Linked DNA regions of Homo sapiens: region 1 is linked to region 2. The links come from fine-mapping of genetic effects on gene expression. A gene starts in region 2. The other region holds a variant in brackets. All regions are shown on one strand. Distances are from middle to middle. Region 1 overlaps LOC101928105 (a long non-coding RNA gene). Region 2 holds the start of SIAH2 (siah E3 ubiquitin protein ligase 2).

Region 1 (11,126 bases), 35 kb before region 2:
CCTAAATAAATGTCTTTTTTTTTTTTTTTTTTTTTTTTTTTTAGAGGGAGCCTCGCTCTGTTGCCCAGGCTGGAGTGCAGTGGTGTGATCTCGGCTCCCTGCAACCTCTGCCTCCTGGGTTCAAGCGATTCTCCTGCCTCAGCCTCCTGAGTAGCTGGGATTACAGGCACATGTCACCTCGCCTGGCTAATTTTTGTATTTTTAGTAGAGATGGGGGTTTCACCATGTAGTATACACCATAAGAATGTGTATAACTTTGCCAGGCTGGTCTCGAGCTCCTGACCTCAGGTGATCTGCCCACCTTGGCCTCTGAAAGTGCTGGGATTACAGGTGAGAGCCACCATGCCCAGCATTTCCTAAATAAACTTCATATAAGCTTTGTCTCAGGCTCTGCTTGCTTTGGGGAAACAACAGTCACCACCCTATTTGCTGTTTTTTGATGATGTTCCTTGCTCTTCATCTATTCAGTTCTTTAATACTTGCCTGGGGAACATCTAGTGTGCTCCTGGTCTGGGAAAGGGCCCTAAAATATAAAACGGAATCAGTCACAGGCCTTGCTCTTGAGGAGTTCTTGGTTTAAGAGAGAGAGAGAACAGACAGCTTAAAAAAAAAAAAAGTCAGTGTATCACAAGGTGAATGCTGTTCCAGAGAACCAGGAAGGAAGAACACAGGAGACAGGACAGCTGATCTGGCTTGGGGTATCTGAGGAGGTTTTCTCAGGAGCGTCTTTTAAAGGATGAACAGGAAGTAGTTTACAGGAACAAGGTGGGAAAAGACCTTCTGGGCTGAGAGACTAGTCTGGGCAGAGACACAGAGTCGTGAAAGAACTCGGTATGTTTGTGAACTGTGGGAAGTTCAGGGAGACTGGAGCGGAGGGTGCCTTAGGAATGTGCTATAGAGGAGTCTGTCAAGACCTGGGTGCCTGCTACACTCCGAGAGGTCAGCGAACGGGCCCTCACTGGCTTCTTTTGCGTTGATGGCCTGGTCTGTATTTCTGCACTAGGTGGCCCTCTCATTGTCGCCATGACTGCTGGCCAGTGGACACCTGCAGGAATGGACTTGGGGTAGGCCTGAGGCCCCAGTCTGCTGGGGTGCTCCTGGGAAACTGAGTCTCGCCTCGCCTAGTCTCATGGTAATGTGCAAGGGTTGTTTTGCATCAGCTTCTTGCCACTGGGGCGAGCCAGCAAGCAGCCAGAGCTTCCAGCACAGCCGGAAGGGGCTGGGAGGGTGTATCCACTTCCCCACCCACTAGAAGAATGTGTCTACCTTTGCCTGGGAGCAGGCTGTGCAATCTCCTGCTCGTGTGTGTCTCTGTTTACTTTGCCATGAAACAATCCTGTGTGGGTCTGCTGGTGTCTTCCCTCCCATTGACCCCTATATCTCGTCGGGTAACCATGCATCTCCTGACTCAGGGAAAAGACAGTGACTTTTTAAATATTTATTAATTAATTAATTAATTTTTTTTTTTTTTTAGAGACAGGTTCTTGCTCTGTCACCCAGGCTGGAAGTTCAGTGGCATGATCATAGCTCACCGCAGCCTTGGACTCCTGGACACAGTGATCCTTCCACCTCCTGAGTAGCTGGGACTATAGGCACACACCACTATGCCCAGTTACTTTTGTTTTGTAGAGACAGGGTCTCGCTATATTGCCCAGGCTGGTCTTGAACTCCTGGCCTCAAGTGATCCCTGCCTCAGCCTCCCAAAATGTTGGGATGACAGGTGGGAGCCACTGCACCCTGCTGAGACCAGTGACTTTTAAAGTCGACTAGTGGCTGTCCGAATCAAGTGGTCCCCTCTTTGGCAGTAGTTGGTAAGGAGTAGAAATCAAAGGATACACAGAGAAGATGCTAGGCAGAAGTAGTGAGGATTGGAGGAGAGCAGAGAGAAGCAGGGTGCTGGCAGCAGGAGAAGCAGACTGAATGTGGCTGAGTAACACCGATGTGCCAACACCAGCGGCTAGGAGATAGTGAGGCTTCAGACCCCAGTGGGGCCTGGTGAGATTTCCATTTCTGAACTACACTCCAGAGTGCCAGAAACCTGCTGGTGTGGCTGGTCCTGTGCTCCAGGAAGTGAAAATAGACACGCACTTTCCTATTCCTGTACATATCCTAACACGGAGTAGCGTCAGCAGAGACACTGCCTGGCCATGCTACTTCCCACCATGTAAACTTGAGTAAGTAACTGAGCACTCTTTCTCAGGTTCCTCACTTGTAAACTGGGCTGTTACTGGTGTCTGCTTCATAGGGTTGTTTTGATGCTTGAATGAGTTAATGGGCATAAGATGTGGAGAAGGGCCTGCTGGTGCATATGAAGTACTCAGTAAGCAGGTAGCGGTCTGGGTCTGGGCAGGACACCCAAATTGGGTAACTGAGGAGAGGCTGAGAGACTATTTACAAAAGTATAGGTCAGATGAAGGGACAAAGGATGGTGGAACACCATGGGCTATAACTGGCTGAGAAGTCTTTAGTACTCCTAGGCCTGATGAGGCGAAGGGAGGAAGTAGTTATCAGACACCCAGCAGCCTCAAAACAGGGTGACAGGGCAGGAACTGTGGGGGTCTGGACAAGAGTGCAGCTGGGCCAACCTGGCCCTACAGGGCAGGAGTGGAAAGCATGCATACTCTTAAGACTTCTCCCTAACTCTGATCTCCTGCCCATGATACCCAAAGGCCAATCTGATTGGAGGCCAAAGGATGAGGCTGTTAGGTGGTTACAAAACGCAGTGGTCAGCCTGCCAGGCCCAGAGCAGTTGGTGAGGCATGGAGCAGGGATCTAGGAGCCACTGCAGCCTCTCTAGCACAAATGTCGCCAGTGTTGGCTGCAGTATTGTTATTACAATAGAGGCCTTTCACTTGAGGCCTTGACCGAGTTGCCATTCCTTGCAAACAAAAGAGCCTTACAGAGGCCGGGCACGGTGGCTCATGCCCGAAATCCCAGCTCTTTTGGAGGCCGAGGTGGGTGGATCACATGAGGTCAGGAGTTCGAGACCAGCCTGGCCAACATGGTGAGACCTCGTCTGTACTAAAAATACAAAAATTAGCCAGGCGTTGTCGCAGGCACCTGTAATCCCAGCTACTAGGGAAGCTGAGGCAGGAGAATCACTTGAACCCAGGAGGCGGAGGTTGCAGTGAGCTAATGCCACTGCACTCCAGCGTGGGCGACAAGAGCAAGGCTTCATCACCCCCCCGCCCCGAAAAAAAAAAGACTAACAGAGAAGAGCAACGGGAGCTCTGCAGGGAGACCTAGGGGACCACGCCATTCCCGTGGTCATCATCAGGTACTCTGTTTACCAGCTCTACTCTGTTTACCAGTCTCCCGCACTAGCTGGGAAAAGCTCTCTGGGGCAGGGCAGAAGTCTTTTCCTCTTTATAACCAGAGTGTCCAGCAGAACCAGGGACTTGTCACTGAGGGCTCTGTTGAGGTTTAAGGAACCCCTAAGAACCTGCTGCTCCAGCAGATAGGAGAGGGAAGCACTTAGGGCCTTAGGGGAGAACGCTGAGTCAGGGAACAGTGTGTGCTGCTGTTGCGTGTGTGTGCTTGTGAACATTCACATTTTATACACGTCAGAGAGAAAGTTGAAGGCATTGCCTGTTTTGGGCTGAGGAGGCCAGGCCCCAGATGAGGCTTCTCCCTGGAGCCCCTCTTTTGTCAGCTCCCATTTGTGCCAGGCCCTGGGCTTCCCTGGATCTCACAACTCATTGCAACCCTGTGGAGTTGGCAGCGTGCCTGTTTTATGGACAAGGACGCTGAGGCCAATGAATTCACAAAGGTAGCGGTAATTAGAAGTGTCTGAATTTGAGCCCAGATATGGCTTGAAAGCCTGAGTTCTTTTATTTTTTGAGGGGAAGTCTTGCTCTGTCGCCCAGGCTGGAGTACAGTGGCATGTTCTCGGCTCACTGCAACCTCCGCCTCCTGGGTTCAAGCAATTCTCCTGCCTCAGCGTCCTGGGTAGCTGGGATTACAGGTGCCTGCCACCACGCCCAGCTAATTTTTGTATTTTTAGTAGAGATGGGGTTTTGCCATGTTGGTCAGGCTGGTCTCAAACTCCTGACCTCAAGTGATCTGCCCACCTCTGCCTCCCAAAGTGTTGGGATTACAGGCGTGAGCCACCGTGCCTAGCCAGCCTGAGTTCTTAATCATTGAGCTAGTGTTTCCCAGTGGAGATACTGCAGGTCATCATTTGAATTTTTGTCACTTCTGTGTATTTCCTGTTTATCATTTACTTAACATTTTTCTCGAAATTGTCTTTTTTGGTACTTTAAACAAGTTTACTTGAAAAGGAAACTGTATCACTACCATAAATGGAGAGCTAGAATCACCTACTGTAAATAGAAGGTATCATAAATATAAACACAAAGGAATTCTTGGTCTCCAGCGTGGCCAACTCCAAATTCTAGAGCAGAATGATTTTGAAGTAACTCCATTCCTTTTAATTGCTTCGTTGCCTTGAGAGGCCTCTCTCTCCTCTATCTGTCTGGGCTCTAAGATGTGTAAAATTGGATTTGATCAGATTGTAGCCAGAGGTGTGCTGGTAAATGTTTAACAACTGGTGCTCCAGAAATTAAATTTTTTTTTAACACATGCAAGTGTCAGATAAATCTTACTGATATAAAGGAATTGTAGCACCCAATGTACAAATAATAAGAAATTATACAGTATTCTAAACTGTAAATTCCATATAGCTTATTGATTCCCTCAGAATGTTTTCATTGCTTTTTGCTGAACCGTTGTATCTGAACCTTGTATTTTGCTGAACCCTTGGCATATATTGTATGCCAACCTGTGGTTGATATTGACAAACAAGCAATTATGACATAAATGCTGGTTGGTACCAGTAAGATTAAAATGAAGAAGCCTTAACTTTCAGATGTTTGTCAAAATTTCACTGGTTCATCAGTGTCATCAATGATGTGAGTGACTTCTTTATTGATTTGGGCAGTAGTTTTTGACTGCTAGAAAAATATTTCTTCAACTTTTTTTTCTATTTGCAATGTAATGGTTCCAAGTATGACATAATTCTAAGTTAAAGCTCTATTATTAACATTTTCGTCATCATTTTCTTAAGTCTAGACAACAACTAATAAATCAAGCCCCAATTTGTTGCTTTTGCCACTTTCTAAGTACTAAATACTGCTACTGTTAAATATATACTGTTAAATATAATACTGTTAAATATAACTTATTTAATTATAAATCTAGAATTTAATTTTTAATAATAGCTGTGTTTATCAACTGGCTCTCAAGATTCCTAAACATTTGACTGTTGCAAGTTGGTATGTGCCGGCTCCTGTGTGCCACTGATTATGGCCCTTATCTTGAAACCAGGCAAGCTGCATATGTTCCCCTTGTGGAGTCACCATCCAGAATAATTTCTACTCTTTTTAGACAT[G/A]AACACGCCGCTGTGCTCTGCTCCAATAAAATAGCAAAGTTTTTCTCTCCTCGCACTTTCTCACCTCAGCTCCTACTTTCCTTCCCCGGACTCCGCTCCCTGGATATTCCTTGAACACACGAGACATGCACACCTCAGGGCCTTTGGACTTGTTATTTCCCCTGCCTAGAATGTTTTTCCTCCAATTAGCTGCATGTTTCATTCCCTCACCTCCGTCAAGCATTTGCTCAAATATCACTCTGTTTATAACTGCGATCCCTCCTCTCCCCTACTCCCCTACTGACCATCCCTTCTACCTGCTTTATTTTTCTCCATAGCATTGACTATCTTCAATGTATTATACTGTATAAAATCTTTGCATATATTTTGTTTATTGCCTTCTTCTCTCCATGACAATGTAAGCAACACAAAGGCTAGAGGTTTTTTGCTTGTTTGTTTTATTTTGTTTTGAAGACAGGGTCTCACTCTGTCACCCAGGCTGGAGTTGCAGTGGTGAAATCTCAGCTCATTGCAACCTCCACCTCCTGGGTTCAAGCAATTCTTGTGCCTCAGCCTCCTGAGTAGCTGGGACTACAGGCTTGTACCACCACGCTTGGCTAATTTTTTTTTGTAGTTTTAGTTGAGACTGGGTTTCACCATGTTGGCCAGTCTGGTCTCAAACTCCTGGCTTCAAGTGACCTGCCAGCCTTGGCCTGCCAGAATGCTGTGATTACAGGTATGAGCCACCATGCCCAGCCAAGGGCTAGAGTTTTTGTACATTTTGCTGGATCCTTTGTGTATGGAACAGTACCTGGCATAGTGTAGGGAAGCAGTATGTATATATGTGTGTTGGATAAATGAATGAATATATAATATGTAATATATAATAGAAACATTCTTACATTGCCTCTGATGAAATGCTTATGTCTCTTTTAATCTATAGATTCTCCTTCTATCTCTTTTGCTTTCTTGAAATTATTTATTGAAGAACCCAGGTTCCCCATAGCAGAGTTTCCTATAGTCTCATTGCAGCCCAAGAATATAATCTGCTCAGATTCAGATTTGATTTTCCTTTTTACAAGACTGCTTCAAACCAACCAGGGAACTATTGGGGAAAAAACCCTGATGGCTTCATAGTTGATGGTGGTGATGGGTACATCTATAACACAAAGGACAGTGTCTGTCTGTCATGTAAATTTTTATATATATATACACACACACACACATGCATGAGGCAGGGATCCAACTTCATTCTTTTGCATGTGAATATCCAGTTGTCCCATTTGTTGAAACAATTATTCTTTCTCCATTGAATTATCTTGACACTCTTGTCTAAAAAAGGGAAGATTTTAAATTAGATTTGTGTGACCAGATTTGCTTCTTTCATAACTTATTTTGGTGGAAACATTGAGAATTCTAGTCAACATCTATTCAGCTCCAGGGTAGAAAATCCATTCAAACTGGCTCAAGTTTGAATAACGGGGGCTCCTACTGCCTAGACTGTGGTCTTGAATCATTGTTTCACACTAAAGAAATCAAGGTTCCTTGAAGACATCGTTGATTACATGTTGAGTGCAGGAAAAGAACAAGATGAGCCTGGAACATCAGAGGCTATTTGTGATCATGTCAAAAGCACTCAGGAACCAAGCTGAATATGCATTTGTCAGGCCAAGATGGAATGATATGAGTATCAACAAGGATAATAATGGCAATGAATTGAAATACATAAAAAAGTTAAAATCCATGAATTCATAATGATATTCTTTTTTTTAAGAGACATAATGATTTTTAGTTTTTGAGACAGGGTCTTGCTCTGTCATCCAGGCTGGAGTGCAGTGGTGTGATCTCGGCTCACTGCAACCTCTGTCTCCCAGGTTCAAATGATTCTCCTGCCTCAGCCTCCCAAGTAGCTGGGACTACAGGCATGCACCACCACACCTGGCTAACTTTTGTATTTTTAGTGGAGACGAGGTTTCACCATTTTGGCCAGGCTGGTCTCGAACTCCTGACCTCAGATGATCTGCCTGCCTTGGCCTCCCAAAGTGCTGGGATTACAGGCATGAGCCACCATGCCTGGCCTGCCTGATATATTTTTAAAATGTTACTTCATTGGTTTTATTTTTGGAGGATGCTAGAAAACTACCTCATTGTTTTGAAAACTGATAAAGGAAAATAATCAGGCATTTATGTTATCTTTCCCTTGTAAAATGTACCTTACGGTAAACCAATAGTTGAAAAGAGGAAGTTTGTCACTATAGAAGTTTTCCAGTTCATAAAAAAGGAATGATTTGAAAGATCATTCTGTAATGCCTCACAAGTGAATATGAGCCATCAATGGCCGATAATATCACTAAAAGAGACAGACAGAGTTAGAGGAAGAGAGCAACAGCCATTGTCCTTTGTGTTATAGACATACACATCACTACCATCACCTATGAAGCAGTCTTCTTTTTTTTCCTCCCCAACAGTTCCCTGGTTGGTTTGAAGCAGTCTTATAAAAAGAAAAATCAAATCTGAATCTGATAAAATGATATTCTGGGGTTGCAATGAGACTATAGGAAACTCTGCTATAGGAACCCTGGGTTTTTCAATAAATAACTTCAAGAAAGGAGAAGAGATGGAGGGAGAATCTGTAGATTAAAAAAGACATAAGCATTTTATCAGTAGCAATGTAAGGATCTTATATATGTATCCCAGTTCAAACAGACTGTATATCAACCAGAGAAATGTGACCTCTGACTGGATATTTGATTATATTAAAATTTATAATTTTTATAGATATAAAAACAGTATTGTGAGTATGTTTCAAAGTCCTAATCTTTAGATATTCTATACTGAAACATATACAGATGAAATGATATGATGCCTGGGATTTGATTCAAAGAAATCCACACGTGGATGTAGGTGAGGGTATAGATGCAGGACAGCTGGCCAAGAGTTGATAATGGTTGAAGTTGGTGATAACACATCGAATTCGTTATATTATTCTCCTTCCTTTTGAAAATTTACTAATAAAATGTTTTTTTAAAAGTTATACATCTTGGCTGGGTGCAGTGGTTCACGCCTGTAATCTCAGCAGTTTGGGAGGCTGAGGCGGGTGGATTGCTTGAGGTCAGGAGTTCAAGATCACCCTGGCCAACATGGTGAAACCCTGTATTTACTAAAAATACAAAAATTAGCCGGGCATGGTGGCAGGTGCCTGTAATTCCAGCTACTCGGAGGCTGAGGCAGGAGAATCGCTTGAACCCGGGAGGCGGAGGTTGCAGTGAGCTAAGATGGCACCACTGCACCCCAGCCTGGGCAACAGAGAGAGACTCCATCTCAAAAAAAAAAAAAAAGTTATACATCTTGACAGCAATAATCATAAAATTAAGCAAAATTAGAAGGAGGGAGAAACTTTGTGTGTTACTTTCTTCAATTTTGGTGGTGGGAGTGAATAAATATGGTCTAAAATTGAAAAAAAAAGTGATAAGAAGAATTAATTGTGAAGGCACAGCAGGCTGTCTCCAAGATGCCTCAAAGCAGGAAATGGAGTGTTTCTGGGCTCCCTGGGGAGGGATTAGGACCTGGCAGGGTGGGCGGCAGTGGCTGCTCCCTCCACCCCTAGGGGCCTCTTGCTATCAAGGCTTTTCCTTTGCTAGTGTGCTGACTTTCCAGGGCTGTGTGACTCTGGTGCACACCACTGACTGTCTTTGACTCTCTCAAGAGAATCTGACTGGTGGCTGCTCAGCCAATGAACCGCTGGCCTGGGTAAGGTCTTATCAGCTGTGGCCTGCATTACAAGTTTGTGGGTGTGTGAATTAGTGGGGGGTTTGCATGGGGTGTTCCAGGAACTATGGGCAGGGCAAATTCTCTAGAAGAAGTAGTTTTTATTGTGGACAGGGTTCGTCCTGAAATTTAGCTAGTATGAGGATGGGTTAAAGGATAGATTAGAATTAGGGACCAGACAAGACACTGCTGAACTTTGATATTCACTCGGCACGTTCTACGTGTCTGACCTTGTGTGGGTGTCAGGAACGCGGGAACAAAGGAAGTGTGAGAGAAGAATAGCCCTGAGAAGTGGATGGGAGGTGGACAAGGCTGGACTTAGGCATTGAGTGGTTTGGTCTTGATCCAGGAGAGGCTGATCTCTTGGCACATCCTCCTAACTACCTCAGCCTTGCAAAAACCTACCCAACACCCAAGGCCCAATGCACGCGCTGCTTTCTCCCGGAAGCCTTTTCCAATCCTCTTTTGAACTCCATAGCAATTTGTACGTCCTTGTCTTAACTTGCTTTGCAAACATAGTTGATGTAGTTGTGGTTGCATATTTCATGCTACTGTAAGTTGCCTCTTTGTTTGATGCTTTCAGACTTCTGCTAGACTGTAAAGTCCATATCTGAGTCACTTTTGCAGGCAGCAGGGCTGTTGGAAGGGCTACATTCCTGAGTGTAAATCCCATTTTCACTGCTTACAAGCTGTGTGACTTTGGGCAAGTTACTTAGCCTCTCTGAGCCCCCACCTTCTTGTTTGTTAATGGGAGTGATAATACCCACCTCAAGGTGTTTTGTTTTGAAAATTAAACCATATCAAGGATATAAAGTACAGGACCAAGCACAGGGCAGTTGATTGGTGTGTATTGAATTGAGGAGGAATAACTCGGATCTTGAGGGATGAGCAGCATTAGCATAGTGGGCGAGATAAGGGAAAGGGAAGGGCATGCTCCAAGCTGTTCTCTTCAGTCCCTCCAGGGGAGGGGGCAGCGTGCGGGGCCACACTCTGGACAGGGCAGCTACTCCTCACATTGTCAGCAGAAGCCACTGCAGTTCTAGGACTCAGGCAGCCACACTCTTGTCCAGTGTAATGGAAACTGCCTTCTGAGCTGCATGCACCCTTACTTGATATCAATGTACCAGGGACTCGGATCTGTAACTAGAACAGCACTTACAGCTTGTCTCTCAGGGAAATGGTGTTGGATGGTCCTCAGGAATATTTCTTCCAGGTTTTCATGGAACCTAGAAAAACACCACAGCTTGCTAAGGTGTAAACCTCTCAGATGCCTGGGATGTTCTAGACTGAGCTGCAGCCAGTGCCTTTCTCCTGTTCAGGGCTGGATATGCACAGACGCCCTCACCAGGGCCTTCTAAACATAATTTGCTTCAACCCTTGCTTGTTGGCACAATTTTTTTCCCACCTCTCTCTATTTCAATAATGGCTGCTTCCTGACCATCTCTACTGCATAAGTAAGTAATCTGCCCTGGAAACTTGTCTTTCTGATTACTTTGCCCCCGCTGTGATTGCCTCCTTCTCCACATCATCCATTTCGCTCTCTCTTTTGGATCCTTCCCATTGGCACAGTGCCATGCTCTAGTGGCTCCAATTTTTAAAACACAAAAAAATCTTTCATTGATCCCACTATTCTCCTGCAGCAACTGCTTCATTTCTCTACGTCTTCTCTGCGGAACTTCTTAAAAGCCTTGTCTATAGCAACTTGTCTATAGCTCTATAGCTATAGCTCCTGCCTCCTCTCCTCACCCATGCCCTGTTCTCTCCCTCACCTGCTCTCCTCTGGGCTTCTGTCTTCTCCACTCCATGAGACTGCTCTTGACATCTTGCCATGACCTCGATTGTCTTCTCAGTGGCTAACTCCTCTGTTCTACTTGAGCCAGATTTTTTTCCTGGGGTTCTGTGATGCCGTACTGTCTAGGAGTTCCCCTCATCTTGATGGCCACTTCTTCTATCCACCCTCATTTCCAGGCTCTGGCTCCTCATGTGACCT
Region 2 (11,126 bases):
TCATAGAATGCTAGAAGCTACAGGTCCTTAGAAGTCAAGCAGATTCATCTCTCATTTGTATAGATGAGGAAATCAAGGCCCTGGGAGGTGGTCTTTCAGGCAAACAGTGGCAGCTCTTGAGATGTGGGCTCTGGTACTTTATTCAACGTTGGTTTTTTTCACATGAGCCAGCCCATGAGAGATTCTGAGAGCAGGTGGGGACAGTAAAAAGGCAGTCCCATAATTTCTAGGAGCCTCAAACTGTAGGCCAAAGGGCTAGGTAAACAGATCTGCCTTGTTTTAAGTTTGATACAGGCCTTACGGCTCTCTGTTGTTTCTCATCCTCTACAACTAACACATCTTGGTTGGTCGCTGGGCCTATGTATACATTCAAGTTTGGTTTATCCAGACTAACTGGCTGAGCTGCCCTGCCAATAGTTTGGATTATTGATCAACCAAAGGTGAGGGACACACACCCCAGCTTTATACAACTCACACACATGCACACACAAAAGCATCCCCAAGATCACATCCTAAGCTTGGTTCTTGGTCTGCAGGGGAATAATTGGCCCTTTTAAATTTCAGCTTGCAAAGTAATAGCTTTACCCCACTGCATTCTTATAGAATAGAGACTCAGAAAACCACTGACATGTACAGAAAGGCTGAGAACCCCTGATTCCCAGAACTACTCTTCAAGGTTGATTTCAGTAGCCTGTTTCACGTTAGGAAAGAACGTATGCTTTCATAGGAACCAGAGTTCTAGATCCTGAAAGTGAAACTTCATGCTCCATATAGCATAACTGTTTCCTTCCCTTTCTCTTGGGAACAACACAATTCTATTATGGTTACATTTTAAAAACAAATTATGGATTACTGACTAATATCAAATGCTCATTTGTGAACTAAAACTCACCTAAAAGCCATTTCTTTTGTTAGCCGCTGCGCGTTTAAGGGAAAGTAAAGGGGTGAGAAAATGGCTCCCCAGAAATCCTATGGGGCATCCCCCACCCCTGCAATATATCTCAAGCATCAAATAGCCACTCTATGTTAACTACCACCAAACCTTTTCCAACCACTAGGTTGTCACCTTTTTCACAACCCTAAGACAACTATGCAAATACTTTATCTAAATTTTGAGAAACTGGGCTGAGTGAATTAGTAAGCACTATATGAGGAGGGGTTAACAGCAATTTATTAAGGTTGCCTGAAACACCCTAGTCCAAACACCGATTCAAACTCTTATTTAAATATGCTATTTTAAACCTGATTTGCAGCAGGGCAGCAGACCAAATTAAAGCACTCATTTTACTGACCTGAGTCCCAAGCCTGAATTCTCTGGTGGATTATTTTTAATTTAAAAATGAGCTCTTGTCCTATAAAATAAGCAGCACCAAGGAGAAATGCAAGACAGCTTAAATGGCCCAAGAGGCAGCGCAAGTTACTTTTACAAAAAAACTGGAAAGTATTAGTGACATTATCTCCACTTCTAATTTCAGAAAATGACTTTACAGTATACTTCTAGGTTATAACGTAGACAAGTATGTCTGTGAAACTGCTCCTGAAGGTTTCCACGTAATAGCTGCAGGTAAACAAATGTTATAATATGACCACACAATGCAATACTATGCAGCCATTTAAAATACAATGAAGTCGACTAGGTTTCAGGCATAGAGAAATATGTGTGATAATATGAATTTAAGAACAGCAAGTTGCAGATGCCATTTTTGGAGAAAAACTTACATCTATGTGTGGGTATTAAAAAACCTCCCTGACATACACTGACATCTATGATTCTATATTTAGCTGCGAGGGTGTATGTATATATAGTTTAAAAAGATACACACTAAACCTAACAATGGTGGGAAAGGAGGGGAGAGATCTTGGTCTTTCATTTTACTTCTTGTCTTGGTGGCTTGCATTTTTCGCAAGGGCATTGAAAACTTTTTACATTAAATAAAAAATGAAGTGATGAGCTTTAAACAACTGTAACAACAGCTCTTGAGTGCCCTTGTTAATTTCTTGATTGACTGTTTTCACCCCACTTAGTACAACAACGCAGCCACAACTCCTCAGTCCTTCCCAGTCTTTGGAAGGCTAGGAGAGAAAAAGGCGTGGCTTGCAGGGTTTTCTTCTAGCTAGAGGAAAACAGGCTGTAGGCGCCCTTTTTTTAGCTACAATCCCGAGAGCTCCCACGTGTCAGGGGTGCGCAGACGGTAGGCGCGGGGTGCAGGACTCCAATTATCAATTCAGCCGAGCCCAGCGCTGGTAAAGGGGGCGTTTAGCTCGCCCGTTTCCTCCCTCCTCAATCCCCACACAGTCAGTTTCTCGGTCCAAGTTTTACTGGTGCGGCCCAGCCCTACCGAGAGTACCCGAATACACGTCTGCAGAGGACGCGGGCATTGGGCCGGGTGAGCTACGATGTTCTAACGATCAGCAAATGCCAATTAATCTGTTAATTGTCTATTAACAATTATTACTCGGTAAATGTCAACCCAGACCTACACCCAAAGTGGGCTTGAGGGAGGGTGGACGAAGTGTAAACATTTTTTCTTTTTTTTTTTTAAATGAGAGATGCCGCCCGCCTCTCCGGGCCTGCGAGTGGGCTGGCGGATACCGGAGTCCCTGAGGTCACCGGCGGAGGTACGTGGGCTGTCCCTGGGCTTACCTTACAGGGAAACAGGACTGCCGAGGCCACCTTCTCCATAGCCAGGTTCCTGATGCTGGGCGTCAGGGCGCCCCTGCACGTCGGGCAGCAGCTCAACTTCTGGCGGCATTGGTTACACACCAGGTGCCCGGCCTGGCACTGCAGAATAGGAGGCAGGACATAGTCAAAGCAGACCGGACACTCGAAGAGCGAGGTCAGCTCGTGGTGCTGCGGGGACACCGGGCCGGCCCCGCCGCCGCCGCCGGGGCCCGAGATCACCGCCGCCGCGGCGGGCACCGCGGACGAGCCGGGGCCCGCAGCCGAGATGGTGGCGGCGGCCGGGGGCGCAGCCGGGGACGGAGTGTGCTGGGGCTGCGGCGGCGGCTGCTTGCTGCAGGGTTTATTAGCGCTGGGGCCGGTGGAGGACGGGCGGCTCATCGCGCTCCGAACCAACCATGGAACTGCGGGCGCCTGCCTGCCGCGGGGCCGCCCGGGTCAAGGCGGTGCGCGCCCCGCGGGCAGCGAGCTCCGAGGCAACGCCACGGCGCCCAGCCCAGGTCCGGGCGGCGGAGACGCTCGGCGCCCGGCAGGCGGAGGGCTGGACCGCGCTGATGCACTCCGCAGCCCCCGGCGTTCCGAGCACGCCTCCGCGTCGGACCCCGCGCGGTGCCCTCCTCCCGGCGGCGTCCCGGGCCCCGAACCCCAGCGGTGCGCAGAGCCCTGGCCCACCCGCTTCTGGAACAGCCGCTGACGCAAGCCCCGGGGGCGCGCGCGGACGTGACGCCTGGACACGTGTGCGGCCGCCCAGGCGCGCGGGGACTGGCAGAGCCACCCTGCGCCGGGGCGCTGGCTCCGCCCGGCTCCAGCTGGCAGCGCAGGGGGCCGCCTAGCGCCGGCGCTTCCTGCTCGGGCTGCGGGCCGGGCCTGCGCCAGTGAGCATGCCTGGCTCGCTGCAGCCCCGCGGGGTTGTCTTTTCTGGGTTGAGGAGGGGGGCTACTCTCGGGGAAGCGTCGCCGAAGTCCTCTGGCCACACCCCGGGGTGCCTGGCTGACGCGTCCCTCAGCTCAAACGAGAAAGGCAACTTCAGGCGGGGCGGGAGCGTGGACGGTGGGTGGGACCGGACGCGGGCGGGCAGGGGCGGGGCGCGGGCGCCCCTGCACTAGTCGGAAAAAACCGAGAGGTTTCTCTTCTCAGGGCTGAGTCACCAGCACGCAGGAGAAGAGGGCGAAGCGGCCACCCGCGTTCTGTGTTCGGAGTCAGGACGAGAAGCATTGGGTGGGAGCAGGGCGAGGGGCTCGAGTTGGGTCTGCAGCGGGCACAGGACCTAGTTTTGTACAGTTAACGGTGGGGTTGAGTAAAGAGGGGGGCGGTGGGGAGGATGTAAGCTCCCTTTATTCCTTTCCCAGCGGACCAGGAGGAAGCTTCGTTGAATTGAGCGCCCCTGGCTCGTATAGCAGGCCGAGGAGGGAGCTCATGGGCAGCGTTGGCTAAGAGTTCGAGATCATCTAGAAATGTCAGAAACGTAGGTTGGGTCGTGAGGTCTCTGAAGACAGTGGGTGAAACTCCAGTGTAAGGCGCTGCGTCCGCTTGGTAGAGAGCCGGCCGAAGTCCGAGTCTTTGTTGCGAGGCGTAGGGCCACCCTGCGCGCCCAGCAGAAGCGCTAGAGGGCACGGTTGCCCGGGGTGAACCGCATGTCCAAATGTAACTGTGTGCTCCGAGTTAAAATTGTTTTTCTGCAGACTTTGCTTGAGCCAACGATTCCGGAATTGGGGAAAGGGTTACCTTAGGTAGAAATCGGAAATTTATAGGAGACACAGAGGTAAGGACCAACTGTTAGGACTGAGTGAAAAATGGTTCCCTCCAACTGTAAAAGTGGAAAAAAAAATACCTATCTTATAGGTGGGGCAGTGAGGAGTAAATGAGTTTAATATATTTCAAGCTTTTAAAACAACCTCGCCCATCATAAGCACTGTTTAAACATTAGCTCTTATCTTTTAAAAATATTAGTGGATGTTTAAAATGAATGAATACAATTTGTCCAAGAAATATGGCGTAAGAGCCCAGAAGAAATAAAGTTTAATCTTACAAAGGGCTTCTGTAGAAAGAATACATGCATGGAATTGATGGAATTTGGTATAAATCTTGAAAAAACTTAATAGGTGTATTCAATCGTTCAGTAAATGTTTCCTGAGCATTTATCATGTGTCAGCTACTGTTGGAGCTCTGAGAATGGTTCTCATGCAGTTTACATTCTAGTAAGAGAGCAAGGCCCAATAACCAAGCACTCGTGGGAGAAGAAGGATTTCAGATACCACGGGGTGGGCAGGCATTATAGCAGGAGCTAAAAAGCACAGAGTGAAAGCATGTATTCTGGGATTGCATTGGGACTTGGAGGGGATATAACGGGAGTGTAGGGGTGTGGCGTTAGCACAAGGGGAGCCTCAACTGGCTTAATAAGACATTTACCTCAATGATAGGGGTAAACCACTGTAGGGTTTTGTTTGTTTTTTTAAGAACACACAACAACACTAGGTTTTGTAGGTTTTTGGAAGCTCTTTAGTAACATGGCTGAACCTGAGTTTTTGGATAGGTAGGGAGCATAAAATAATAACTAATGTTAATTGAGTGCCCACTGTATGTTGGGCATGGATAGTTTTAAGTATTTATCATAACTCTCTGTGATGAATACTACTGTTATCTCCATTTTACAGTTGAGGAAACCGAGACATAGGTTACTTTGCTCAAGATCACACAGCTGAGAATGTGGGAACACGCTAGGAGCCCTTCTTAACTACTAGTCTGTATGCCTCTAAATTATGCCTGATTCCTACTTACAGTCTTGTTAAACAGTTAAGATTAGCACACTCAACAGAGTCAGAAAACAGTTGTTCAGCCTATAATAAAGCACTAAATTTTGTGGGCAAACTTTACATAAACTCTTTCCTTAGCTGGTCTAGAGAGAAAAATTAAATCATGTTCTATTTATTTCATTTTCACCTTTTTATGACACAAAATATAAGTGATAACACAAAAATCACCTACTGTTTTACTGTTATTGGAGGAAATGTAATATTTTTCATTCTTAATTTAAAATCAAAGCATTTGGAATTTATTAATGGAACACATTTTCTTTCCTTCCACTTCTAGCCTCTCTGTGTGATGACCTCCATCCCCACGGCTTCTTACTAGCTCTCATTAGGAGACTGGAGTCCTCACCCTTGCCCCATTGACACGAGCTTTAAGTGTTCCAGCTAGATAGGCCCTGGTCATTCAGAAAACAATTTGGTTTGGGAGGTGTTGAAAGAAATAACAGGAAAAGCAATTCTCTGCAGAGAGAATTTGGTTTATTTTTCTAAAAATACAGCGAACCCATCCACTCTTACCCTGGCAGATGCCTCCCCTGGTATAGAGAAATTTCTTCTTTCTTCCTCCTTCACATCATTGCACACCTGATTAAGTCAACCAGGGTAATTAAAATACAAAAGCAAAACAAAAAAACTCTGGGCAGTTGCTGAAGGTAGGCAGGGGGAGAGTGGATAGGTCTGCTATGTGAGCCACATCAATGACCAGGCTGGTCTTCCCAGTCGCCTTTCTTCTTCCTCCTTCCTTGGTGACTTTTGAAACAAAGAAAGGTGACCTTTGCATACCGGGCACTATGAGCTAGAGCCTCCTCTTCCAGCGGGCAGTCCGCTCAGAGGTCGAATTTAGCGTGTACTCAAAATGTGTGCTGAGTTGAGTTGTTGGGAGGTTTATTTACCCTTTGGAGTGTCGCTGCTGCTTCTTGGCCTGTTTAGTGAGTGACTTTGTGGTCTGGGGGAGCAGGGTCCAGCCTTTTGTTATCTCCTGATTCATGACTCATTTACCACATCTACTGTATGAGAGGTTGGTCTCATTCGCCCACCTACTGAGTCCCAGATTGCATATGTCAAGCAGGACACCTCTCCTTAACCCATCTGCTCTATGCTAAGCTTGAAAGACTAGGGGTGTACTGAGTAGCCTTTTCTTTCCTTAAAATAGCAGGGTGAGTCTTAAAAAAAACACCTCACAGGTGAGTTCCTAATTTCACTAAACTGCTGAGCACAGTGAGAAATGCTCCAGCTAGGCAGACAAGCTCTTGCCCTTTTTTCTGTAACTTACAAATTGTGTGGTTTTGCAAATCAGGCAACTTCTGCCATCAGGCAAATGTGCATTTGCAGAGCAAATTGTGGTTGGCTTTTTAGAGATGACTCAGGTATGCATTGGAGCTTGCTGCATGGAAATTCCTCATCAGGGGAAGCTTGTGGGAAATCTGGAGGTGATGTAAGGCCCCCTGGTAATTATAGTAGGAACTTTTAACTTCATCTGTTTCTGGGGTAATTTCCAAATGCTCAAACTTCTTTTGAATAATTGTAGGTCTCTTAATTCAAATCTTTTTTTTTTTTTTTGAGACAGGGTCTCACTCTGTCACCTAGGCTTAATGCAGTGGCTGGATCATGGCTGACTGCAGCCTCAACCTCCCAGGCTCAAAGGATCCTCCTGAGTAGCTGGGACTACAGGCACGTGCCATCACGCCCTGCTAGTTTTTTAGTTTTTGTAGAGAAGAGGTCTCACTGTGTTGCCGAGGCTGGCCTCAAACTCCTATACTCAAGTACTCCTAATTCAAGCATTTTTTTGAACAACCATCATGGACTTAGCACTGTGTACTAAGAGCAGTTCTATGTATTTGCATTATTTTTGTATCCACACTTAGCTAATTAGTGCTCACCCTGTACCAGGGAGTGTTCCAAGTACTTTACATATTTTAATTCTCTTAATTCTCACAATGTCTTTTATAGGGTAGATCTTTATAGATGACAAAACAGGTACAGAGAGGCCAAGAGAGTTGTAGGAAGTCATCATTAAGAAGGCTCCCAGGGATCCCTCCTCCTGGTGTCGCCCAATATGTAACACCTTTCCTGTGAATGAGGGCTGATCCTGCTTTAAGTGAACAGAATATGGTCAAAGTGATAGAATGTCACTTCTGAGATTAGGTTAAAAAAGACTATGAATTCTGTCTTACTGTCCCTCCGTTCCTCTCGCTTGCTGTCTTAGCTCGAGCTGCTATAATAAAATATCATAAACTGGGTGGTTTAAATAACAAACATTTATTTCTCACAGTTGTGGAGGACGGGGAGACCAAGGTCAAGGTGCCACAGGTGTCTAGCGATGGCTTGCTTCCTGGTTTGTAGATGGCAGCCTTCTCACTGTGTCCTTACGTAGCAGAGATAGGAAGGAAGCTCCCTCAGGACTCTTCTAAGGATACCAACCCTCTCCATGAGGGCTACACCCTTAGCACCTCCTGTAATCCTGATTACCTCCCAAAGACCCTGCCTGCTAATATCATCACATTAGGGAGTACAGTTTCAATATGTGAATTTTGAGGGGACACAAGTATTCAGTCTGTAACACTCTCTGAGCCCTCTCTGTGGATGAAGCCAGCTACCATGTTGGGAGTAGCTCTGCTAAACGGTCCACGTGGCAAGGAACTGATGTCTCTGGCCAACAGCTAGTGAGAACCCTGGGCTTGCCAACAGTGAGTGAGTTTGGAAGTGGATTCTCTCAGCCGAGCCTTGTGATGATTGCAACCCTGGCTCACAAGTGATTGTGCCTGTGACACCTTGAACTAGAGGACTCAGCTGAGTTGAACACAGAAACTGTGAGATAATGAATATGTGCTGTTTTTATTTTTATCTTTATTTTTAGAGATAGGGTCTTACTATGTTGCCCAGGCTGGAGTGCGGTGGCCATTCTCAGACACAATCATAGTGCATTACAGCCTGGAACTCCCAGGCTGAAGCAATCCTCCTGCCTCCGCCTCCCAAGTTGCTGGGACTACAGGTGTGTGCCACTGCACCTGGCTTCAGTGTTTGTTGTTTTAAGCCATGAAGTTTTGGGATCATTTGTTACTCAGCAATATATAACTAATACACCTGTCCCAGGTCACAAGGCTTATATGTAAAATGATTTTTTATTATAATGCTATTTAAATATAAGGAAACAAATATAGGAATATTATTTTTGTTATTTACAGCTATAGAAACAAAAAAATTGAACACCAACAAAACCAGAATTAATGTTCTTATTTCTTATTTTTATGTAAATCCATATTTTTCAGATGATAATTTGATGTGATAGAAGATGTGCGAAAATGAAATCATCATTTAGTTTGGAAACAACCTCAGTGTCCATCAATAAGAAAAAGAACTATGGAAAGCCATCCTATAAAACCCTCTGCAATTTAGAAAAGTTCTCCAAGACAATTTGTTACATGAAAAAAGCACACTGTGGCTGGGCACAGTGGCTCACGCCTGAAATCCCAGCACTTAGCGAGGCTGAAGCGGGCAGATCGCTTGAGGTCAGGAGTTTGAGACCAACCTGGCCAACATGGTGAAACCCTGTCTCTACTAAAATTACAAAAATCAGCTGGGCCTAGTGGTGGGCACTTGTAGTCCCAGCTACTTGGGAGGCTGAGGCAAGGAGAATCACTTGAAGCCAGGAGGCAGAAGTTGCAGTGAGCCTAGATTGTGCCACAGCACTCCAGCCTGGGCGACAGAGCGAGAGTCCGTCTCAAAAAACAAACAAACAAACAAAAAACACTGAAGCCAAAAAACCCAAAATGATTCCATTTCTGTAGAAAATACCGTGCAAGGCAAAATGACTATATGTTTACAAGGGCATAGAAAGGTCTGGAAGAAGACAGTGAACTGACGGCAGCAGCTGCCTCCAGGGAGGGGGAATGTGAATGGATATGCAGTATGGAAAACATACATACTTCCTATATTTCTGGAGTTTATTTCTTTTTTCTTCTCTTGTTCTTTTTTGTTTGTACAATGAGAATTTATTCATGTGTTTCGTGTGTTATTTTTTAAAAAGTGTGTTGTCCTTGCCTTTCTGGGGGTTATTTTAGTGAAGGATTTATTTAGCTGCAGGGTTGGTGCCAAAATGGGTGATAAAGACTAGCCAGCCAGAAAAGGTGGGCATTATACTGCTGAGAAAGGAACTAGGAGCTTCAGTCAGGTCTTTGGGTCTGAGAGGTGACTTGCTGAAATTAATATTAAATTTAAATTAATATTAAATATTAAATTTAAGAAGAGTAACCCAAAGGCAGTATGTGAGTATAACTTGGAGATCCCAGAAAGAAGGAAATAGGTTGGAGGATCTAGTGCTCCAAGAGGGGCTTCCTGGGTCGAGTAGAGATGAAGGTTATGAGCCAGGTTGTGGCCACTGGTCAGCTGGCTAAGTGCAAAGATTTATTCAGTCAATAGTGTCATATTTGGAGGCCATGGATAATATCAAGCCCAGGCTTGATTTTTGGAGAGATAGTAGCCTGGTAGGGGAATAACATTAATTATAAAACCCTTACACAATGCTCACTGGATATCAGACACTCTTTTTTTTTTCTTTTCTTTTTTTTTTTTTTTTTGAGATGGAGTTTCACTCTTGTTGCCCAGGCTGGAGTGCAATGGTGTGATCTAGGCTCACCACAACCTCCACCTCTCGAGTTCAAGCGATTCTCCTGCCTCAGCCTCCTGAGTAGCTGGGATTACAGGCATGAGCCACCATGCGCTGCTAATTTTTTATCTTTAGTAGAGACAGGGTTTCTCCATGTTGATCAGGCTGGTCTCAAACTCCTAACATCAGGTGATCCACCCACCTCGGCCTCCCAAAGTGCTGGGATTACAGGCGTGAGCCACTGTGCCCGGCCCCCAGACACTCTTTTAAGCACATGGCATTTAATCCTTATTAGAACGCTCTAAGGCATGTAGTCTATTAATCCCCTTTAAGCGATGAACAAACCTCCAAGAGGAGGTTTAATCCCTTGTCCTAGGTCACATGCTGATAAGTGACAGAAACATGATTTGGATCCAGGCTGTTTTAACTCCAGTGACTGTGCTCTTAACCATTTGGCTGTCCTGCCAGACATCATATGGAAAATCTAATACAGTGTGATACGTGTATTATGGAGATGGGAAAGGAGAGGAGGGTGAAGTTCAGCACTTCCTGGGCAAGTGTGAGGAAGACATCAAGAAAAAGCAAGAGTAGGAATGTGACAACCAAAGAAGAGGGTAAAGACTGCAGTCCAGAGAGAGGGCAGCGTATACCCGAAGGTACAGAGCTCCTGAAACTTTCCTACCTTGGGGAGTCTTCTGTCCTCTCTCCTCTAGGAACCATCCTTGGATCCCTGCTGGCCTCCTTTCTGAACCCGCTGTTGAGGCAGAGTTGCATATACAGCATTTCTCCTAGGACTGTTTGTTCTTAGATCTCTATCCCTTAGTGAGAAGTGAAGAAAGGCAGAGGGGAGAGAGTCCGGAATAATCTCCTTATTCTCCATCCCCACATCCCTAAGTCTGATCTGAGATTCCCCCAAAGAGCCTCGTCCACGCCAGCCTAACCCAACAGACAGTGTGGATCACTGAGAACCAGCAAAATTGACATAACCTTGAGGCCTCAAATAATACATTCCTTTCCTTTGACATCAGTTTTG

What was found.
Region 1: its variant is fine-mapped to the expression of SIAH2 in whole blood (TOPMed, PIP above 0.99).

Annotation. Positions count from the first base shown.
Region 1 is chr3:150,724,503-150,735,628 of GRCh38, forward strand. LOC101928105 (a long non-coding RNA gene) reads right to left here. Exons shown (of 3, transcript NR_121657.1): 3 at 9,969-10,362. Among named protein-coding and RNA genes, the nearest start is that of ERICH6, 26 kb to the left of the region's middle. RefSeq lists enhancers at 652-1,153, 1,154-1,653, 2,898-3,397 and cis regulatory regions at 5,163-5,555, 8,804-9,495. The variant G/A (reference allele first, on the strand shown) is at 5,390.
Region 2 is chr3:150,759,789-150,770,914 of GRCh38, forward strand. SIAH2 (siah E3 ubiquitin protein ligase 2) reads right to left here and starts at 3,381. Exons shown (of 2, transcript NM_005067.7): 1 at 2,645-3,381. The coding sequence starts at 3,061. It overlaps SIAH2-AS1 (SIAH2 and CLRN1 antisense RNA 1), which reads left to right and starts at 2,149. Exons shown (of 3, transcript NR_187306.1): 1 at 2,149-2,192; 2 at 2,551-2,619; 3 at 8,757-8,887. It overlaps LOC124909447 (a long non-coding RNA gene), which reads right to left and starts at 10,843. Exons shown (of 2, transcript XR_007096132.1): 1 at 10,776-10,843; 2 at 7,728-7,852. RefSeq lists enhancers at 936-1,035, 2,852-3,798, 4,317-4,376 and a silencer at 2,907-3,806.